Linked DNA regions of Homo sapiens. The protein of the gene in region 1 purifies or fractionates together with the protein of each later gene. This does not show direct contact. Each region holds a gene or a part of one and is shown in the gene's direction. Other genes may lie near its edges. The genes, in order: CSF1R and PTDSS2.

Region 1 (3,500 bases):
AAGGTGCGTGGGGCATGGGGACCGGCAGCCAGGCCTGAAGAGTGGGGACAGAGAGCCGGCGGCCACATGGGTGGTGACTGGGGACTGGGTGTGATGGGGGGCAGTGGGATGTCCTCTTTCTTTCACTTCTTCCCCTCAATGGTTCCACGATCATCTATGGGGCAGGACTGACAAGGTGTCGGGGCAGGGAGACAAACCACATGTGAGCAAATAACTCAGTGGGCAAGGTCATCTCAAGTCATTGGACATGCTACAAAAATAAACATTCAACATGGTAGCTGAATAAGGAGTGTGTAGGGCGGGGAGCCTCACTGAGAAGGAAACACTTTATTAGAGCGGAAATCTGAATGACATGAAGAAGGTGGCTGTGCAAAGATCTGCTTCAGCAGGGGGACAGTGAGTACCAAGTGGTGAGGTGGGGACAGGCTCTGAATGTTCTAGGTATGGAAAGAGGACGGAAGCTCAGCCTCAGACATGGATTTCCCACTGGGGGCCTGCCTAAGGCCAAGTGCTGGGCATGTGTAGGAGGGATGCTGAGCCAAGAGGCAGGGAGGAGATGGTGGGTGCGTGTGATGGCTCTCGCGGTGGCCAGGTAACAGTGGAGGTGGAGTCTCACCCTGCTGGGATGGCAGGCAGGATTCTGGTTTCTGGGAGGACTGGTGAGAGCAAGCAGGACCCCAGCCTGAGGACCTGGGCTTGAGACAGCAATCAGTCCCTGTAACAAGGGCCAGGGTCAGAGTGAAGCAGCTAGCCCAATGCCACTGGGATCTGAAGCCACTAAACCTGCCCAGGGGGTCAAAGGACCCCAGCTGTGTGGGCAGAGGAGGCCATTAGGGCTCTTTCCTGGCATTTCATCCTGCAGAGCCCTGGGCTGGCCAAGAGCCAAAGGTCCTGGGCCCTAGTTCTGCCTTGACACCCCCTCAGGGACCTTGGGTGAGTCCTTTCATGTCCCTGGGCCTTAGGAATCTGGATTAGATTATCTTTCAACAGCAGCAATGGGCATAAATATGAATTCAAGGCCTACTGTGCATCAGGCATCTTGCTGGCTGCTGGAATATTCCTGTCACGGATTTGACATTCGACTAGAGTCTAACTATTAAATAGAAAGTAAATACAAATGTGATGAGCAAGAAACCAAGCTGGGGAGTGGCGGGCATGGAGGTGCTGGGGAGGCTAATTCATATCAGCTGGTCACAGAAGCCTTGCTGAGGAATTTTTGAGCTAAAGATCTGAAGGATGAGAACAGCCTCCCATTTGAAGTGTGGGAGGAAAGGCATTCCAGGAGGGAAAGGTGGGTGCAAAGGCCCTGTGGTAGGAAAGAGGTCCAGCGGGCTGCAGTGCAGTGAACAAGGGGTGGGGTTATCAGGGCGGTCAGAAACAGGTTGGGCTGTGGAAGGACTTTGACTTCTTTTCTGAGAGTAATGGGAAGCCCCAAATGTTTACAGAGGAGAGAGGCATGGTCCCATTTATATTTGTAAGAGGTCACTTTAGTGAAGAATCTAGGTGTGGGGGGCTTGGAGGGAGGCAGGGAGGTCTCTGAGGAGGCTGGTGCAGAAGTCCAGAGTGGAGAATGGTGACGGGACTGGGGAGGGGTAGAGGTGATGGAGAAAGTAGACTTTCCAAGGTCTCTTTAGGACAGGCCTTGCAGTGGGGGGACTGGGAGCATCAAGGCTGCCTCCCAGGATTTGGGATGGGGCAGTGATGGGGACCCTGGCCTGTGTGTCCTGGCCCATGGCAGGGAGGAGAGCAATATCTCTATCATGTTCAGGGAGCCTGGGTGTTCAGGGGTCTCTCCCCCGGTCTCAGTCATCCCAGGGCCCCCAGCCTTGACACTGGTGCCTGCAGAGCTGGTGCGGATTCGAGGGGAGGCTGCCCAGATCGTGTGCTCAGCCAGCAGCGTTGATGTTAACTTTGATGTCTTCCTCCAACACAACAACACCAAGGTCAGTCCCTGCAGATCACAAGGTGAAGTCTGGCCATCCTCCCAGCACACCAGGTTTCCCATGGTGGAGTCCTGGGCCCCCAACTCCAAACTGGCTGTCTTAGCTGAAGGCACAGCTCAGACTCCAGAGAGGGGTGCAGACTCACCCGAGATCTCACTCCCAGTCAGTAGCTGACACAGAATCAGGACTCATGCTTGTGCCGCTGAACTTTGTGGGGGTGGGTGGGGGGAGGTGGTTCTCTGTCACCTTGACACATGGCCTTTGCCCCAGCCTTTAGACAAAAGCCAGAGGTGAGCTCACTTCTGATTTAGCAAGGGTTTCCTAGGCCACCATTGAAGCCCAGGAATATAACAGCTATTTCAGAAAGACATTGGGAGAGAGGGAGGAGGAGGGAGGATTCCAGGAGGGACTCACGTTGGGCTGCCTCTAAGAGCCCCCTCCCTTCCCACTGCACCTGCCGTGTTCCAGACACAGCCCTAAGCCACTTGCATGCATATCTCATTTACTCCTCACTACAGTCTTGGGGCAGGGAGCCAGTATTAGCCCCATTTTACAAGTGAAGCAACAGGCTCAGAGGAAAGGCAGATAGTAATCCTTAAAGGCTGAGGATTGGAACCCAGATCTTTCTAATCCCTAAACTACCTTGGTATAACATCTCCATTCCTTCTGGCTGCAGCTCGCAATCCCTCAACAATCTGACTTTCATAATAACCGTTACCAAAAAGTCCTGACCCTCAACCTCGATCAAGTAGATTTCCAACATGCCGGCAACTACTCCTGCGTGGCCAGCAACGTGCAGGGCAAGCACTCCACCTCCATGTTCTTCCGGGTGGTAGGTAAGCATCAGGGTGGTGGTGGACAGTCGGTAGGGATCCTGCAGGAGTGTGAGCAGAAGGGTTTTGAGGAGGAAGCTGATGTCAGGGAAGGAGACCTGCTGAGGATATCTCTGCTGGAGTTTGTTTATCCAAGGCCTGGCTAAGGAGCCACTCTCCAGGAGCTTTCCCTTACCCTCTCCTGGGATCTCTCTCCCATCTTGGAGCTCTTACAGTGCATGGCTGCATTGGGTGCACCTTAGTGCCATTTTTTGTTTATTTGGGGATTGGGGTCCAGTAGCTCCCTACTGGACTTCATTTGTTCATTCTTTCATGCATTCCTTTATGGAAACATGAAAAGACAATGATCACCCAGTGATTATGGGGGAAGCACAAGGTGTCCTGGGAACACTGAAGAGTCCCCCCAACCCAGGCTTCGAGAAGGTGGCCTCTAAACTGGGATGGGAAGAATGAAGGTGAGTTGGCCGGGCAGAAGGGTGGGAAAGGAAGGGGAACAGCGCTTCTGGCAGAGGGAGGAACATATGCAAGGCTCAAAGGCAAAGAGAACATAGATCATTTGGAACACTGAAAGAACTTGACAACAGCTGGGATGTGGAGTGGTGTGAGGAGTGGCCACAGGGGAGCAGAGGAGGTGGCAGAAGCCGGAGGTAAAGGTGTCTTAAAGTGAGAAAGAATAACTGCATCTTAACCTATTGGGAGGTCATTGTAAAGAGGAGAGTGATGG
Region 2 (4,128 bases), on another chromosome or scaffold:
GCACGCACCCGTGGGCAGGGCCGGGCGTGGCCGGCGTCCCATACTCTGGCTGCCAGCCGGGGTGGGGGCTGCACGCACCCGTGGGCAGGGCCGGGTGTGGCCGGCGTCCCATACTCTGGCTGACCCTGGCGCCCACAGACCCTGATGATCCGAGACTGGTGGATGTGCATGATCATCAGCGTGATGTTCGAGTTCCTGGAGTACAGCCTGGAGCACCAGCTGCCCAACTTCAGCGAGTGCTGGTGGGATCACGTAGGTGCCAGCACAGCCCCCGGGGCAGTCGGTGCAGGCTGAGGGGCATTCTCGGAACCCCTGTGCCCAGCGCGGCCCCTGGACCCCCTCATTCTCCCCGGGGGGCAGTGGGTGCAGGCTGAGGGGCATTCTCGGTTCCCCTGTGCTCTTCCGGGGTCCTCCTCGGGGGGCTCGTTACCCCTCACCCCTGCAACGAGTGCTGGCCCCTCCCTGCAGTGGATCATGGACGTGCTCGTCTGCAACGGGCTGGGCATCTACTGCGGCATGAAGACCCTTGAGTGGCTGTCCCTGAAGACGTACAAGTGGCAGGGCCTCTGGAACATTCCGACCTACAAGTACGTCGTGGGGGCTGCGAGGGCAGGGCCGGGTGGGGGTTACCTGGAGGCAGCCTCAGCGTCCGTGCTCCAGCAGACCCCGAGCACCAGGCCCGTCCAGTGTGCGGCTCAGGAGGGGTGACCGTGGGGCTTTGCCTCCTGGAACCTCCCTCTGACCTGGTGTCACTCAAGCCCGGCCGCCCCTCACAGTGGCCATGGCGTCTGACCCACGTACCTCCCTCCTCAATCCCTGGCCGGCCTGGCGCAGGGGCTGTGGGATCATTCCGTGCTTCTCCCTCCCTTGGTTGCTTTGGTTATGAAATAGTTGCAGGTACTTTGTCATTATGACTTTGGAATTTAAAAAAGAAACAGAAGTCTAAGGAAAGGCCTGGGGGACGGGGGTCTCCCCTCCTGCCTGTGGGTGCCCCGGCTCTGCCTGGCTCTGCAGACATGGCTAGCTCACGGCACCGTGGAGCGCCCTCTGAGGCGCTGCAGCCACTGCTCAAGCTGGAAGAGACTGAACAGCAGAGGGCCGTGGAGAAGCAGGGCTTGTAGCTGGGTGGCCAGACCTCGGAGAACAGCCGGGCAGCAGCTGGGTAACCAGGAACAGAGTCTGTGGCCCGATGGCACAGGGCGGGGCGGGGTGACCAAGAGCAGAGCTCGTCCGATGGCACAGGGCGGGGCCGGGTGACCAGGAACAGTCTGTTGCCCGATGGCACAGGGCAGGGTTCGGTGGGCTGCCTTCCTCAGGCTGCCGGCTCTGTGGTTCCCAGGGGCAAGATGAAGAGGATCGCCTTCCAGTTCACGCCGTACAGCTGGGTTCGCTTCGAGTGGAAGCCGGCCTCCAGCCTGCGTCGCTGGCTGGCCGTGTGCGGCATCATCCTGGTGGTAAGGCCGGGCTGCCTCGCGACGGCGCGGCGGGCGGGGGGCCAGAGCTGGTGCTCACCCTCTCCTCCCCTAGTTCCTGTTGGCAGAACTGAACACGTTCTACCTGAAGTTTGTGCTGTGGATGCCCCCGGAGCACTACCTGGTCCTCCTGCGGCTCGTCTTCTTCGTGAACGTGGGTGGCGTGGCCATGCGTGAGATCTACGACTTCATGGATGACCCGTGAGGGCTGCGGCAGTCCGGGTGGAGACACCCCCGGGGGGCAGGGGCCGGAGGGCTGGGGAGCAGAGCCTGGGAGGCCGGAGCCTGGGCAAGTCCGCCTGGAGGACCCTGCGGGGCCCGGGACGCTGAACCCCCTGCTGCCCCTGCAGGAAGCCCCACAAGAAGCTGGGCCCGCAGGCCTGGCTGGTGGCGGCCATCACGGCCACGGAGCTGCTCATCGTGGTGAAGTACGACCCCCACACGCTCACCCTGTCCCTGCCCTTCTACATCTCCCAGTGCTGGACCCTCGGCTCCGTCCTGGCGCTCACCTGGACCGTCTGGCGCTTCTTCCTGCGGTGAGTCAGGGCAGGGCGCGTATGTTCTGAAGGAGGGCCGCTGTCCGGGTCCCTTGGCACAGGCACTGTGGGAGTTTGGTGTCGTTGGTGTCTCACTGTCCCTGCTTCAACCCTCTGGCCGCCTCTGCGGGAGGCGCCTTTCCTGACCCAGCCCTCGGGGCCTTCGCTCTGCACTGACAGATCCAGGCTCCTCAGGGCTCCAGTCTGCCACGGCTGCCGTCCCAGGGCCAGGGTACCCGGCACCCACCCAGTCCATTCCGGACCTCCACAGGGACTAGGTGCCAGCTGTCCATGGGGCCTGCAGTGGGGCTGGTGTGGGGGCAGGTGGTGACGCTGCATCCCGCTCCCCAGGGACATCACATTGAGGTACAAGGAGACCCGGTGGCAGAAGTGGCAGAACAAGGATGACCAGGGCAGCACCGTCGGCAACGGGGACCAGCACCCACTGGGGCTGGACGAAGACCTGCTGGGGCCTGGGGTGGCCGAGGGCGAGGGAGCACCAACTCCAAACTGACCTGGGCCGTGGCTGCCTCGTGAGCCTCCCAGAGCCCAGGCCTCCGTGGCCTCCTCCTGTGTGAGTCCCACCAGGAGCCACGTGCCCGGCCTTGCCCTCAAGGTTTTTTGCTTTTCTCCTGTGCACCTGGCGAGGCTGAAGGCGAGGGGTGGAGGAGGCCCCAGCACAGCCTCATCTCCATGTGTACACGTGTGTACGTGTGTATGCGTGTGTGTACGCGTGTGTACGCGCGTGTGTACACATGCGTGGCCGCCTGTGGTGTGCACGTGTGCTCTGGGCTCCGAGGCTTCTCCAGAGCTGGGAGCTGGCTGGCGTGGCAAGGGCATGCTCTGGGGCAGTGTGTCCCTCAGGAACCAGGGTCCTCCCTCCCCTTTCTGCCTGGTCAGCCCCGTGGCCTCTGGCCCACCAAGCTCCCTGTCACCCAGCCATGGTGTGGTCCAGGCAGGGACATCTCGGTACCCTTTCTGCACTCCGTGGGCCCTGGGTGCGCTGAGGCCTGGAGGCGTCTACACTGGCTCCACATCCACTTCCCCCGCAGCTCGTGTGGGCGCTCGTCCACAAACACTCCGTGGCTGAGAGGCAGCGGATCCAGGCAGCGATGCTGAGCCACCTCCTCCGAGCCTTCCTTTCACACAGACCACCCCGGAGGACACGTGGATGATGGGGTCAGAGATCACTGAGCTGCCCCTCAAGGGGGCCTGGAACCCGGGTGCTGGGGTCATGCTGCCTCCGTGGCTCCAAGGTGAGGGTCATCTTCACGAGCAAAGAGAACCAATAAAGTGACAACGAACGTCTGAGGCTTCCAGCCCTCCCCCCAGCTCCCCGTGTCCTGCTTTGGGGTCCAGTGCAGCCCTCCAGCCTGCCCTCATGCCCAGTGCCCACTTGGGGAAAACCACACAGAGGACAGGAGGCACTCAGCCTCTGCACCTGAGCAAAGACTTGGCGCCTGCCCCGCCCCACCCCCCAGAGAGAGCAGGTGCCAGATGCAGCCCCTCTCCCATTCTCCAGGAGGGTCCAGGTGGCACCCACCCTCTGCTGCGCTTGTCCAAGGGCTGGCGGCCACTGGGCAGTGGACACAGGATTCCTGGGGTACTGTGTTTGTCCCAGGCTGGCAGACACTGGGCAGTGGACACAGGATTCCTGGGGTGCTGTGTTTGTCCCAGGCTGGCAGACACTGGGCAGTGGACACAGGATTCCTGGGGTGCTGTGTTTGTCCCAGGCTGGCAGACACTGGGCAGTGGACACAGGATTCCTGGGGTGCTGTGTTTGTCCCAGGCTGGCAGACACTGGGCAGTGGACACAGGATTCCTGGGGTGCTGTGTTTGTCCCAGGCTGGCAGACACTGGGCAGTGGACACAGGATTCCTGGGGAGGGGCAGCCGCCTTCTCGGGCCACTATTTTTATGTTTTTTTTTCTTTTTCTTTCCTTCCTTTTTGTGGAGAACGGGGTCTCGCTATATTGCCCAGGCAGATCTCGAACTCCTGGGTTCAAGTGATCCTCCTGCCTCTGCCTCCCTGAGAGCTGGGATTACAGGCGTGAGCCACCATGCCCAGCTTGAGCCACTATTTTTTTGAGATGGAGTCTCACTCTGTCAGCCAGGCTGGAG

Evidence for each region.
Region 2: the proteins of CSF1R (region 1) and PTDSS2 fractionate together in Homo sapiens (co-fractionation; one large-scale study listed by BioGRID). This does not show direct contact.

What each region holds. Positions count from the first base shown.
Region 1 is NC_000005.10:150,076,555-150,080,054, reverse strand, and holds part of CSF1R (macrophage colony-stimulating factor 1 receptor isoform a precursor), read left to right. Parts: coding exon 1-3; intron 4-1,806; coding exon 1,807-1,943; intron 1,944-2,619; coding exon 2,620-2,779; intron 2,780-3,500. UniProt on the Homo sapiens protein: Tyrosine-protein kinase that acts as a cell-surface receptor for CSF1 and IL34 and plays an essential role in the regulation of survival, proliferation and differentiation of hematopoietic precursor cells, especially mononuclear phagocytes, such as macrophages and monocytes.
Region 2 is NC_000011.10:488,061-492,188, forward strand, and holds the end of PTDSS2 (phosphatidylserine synthase 2), read left to right. Parts: intron 1-138; coding exon 139-252; intron 253-468; coding exon 469-587; intron 588-1,339; coding exon 1,340-1,454; intron 1,455-1,527; coding exon 1,528-1,673; intron 1,674-1,822; coding exon 1,823-2,008; intron 2,009-2,359; coding exon 2,360-2,522; 3' UTR 2,523-3,339; downstream 3,340-4,128. UniProt on the Homo sapiens protein: Catalyzes a base-exchange reaction in which the polar head group of phosphatidylethanolamine (PE) or phosphatidylcholine (PC) is replaced by L-serine. Catalyzes the conversion of phosphatatidylethanolamine and does not act on phosphatidylcholine.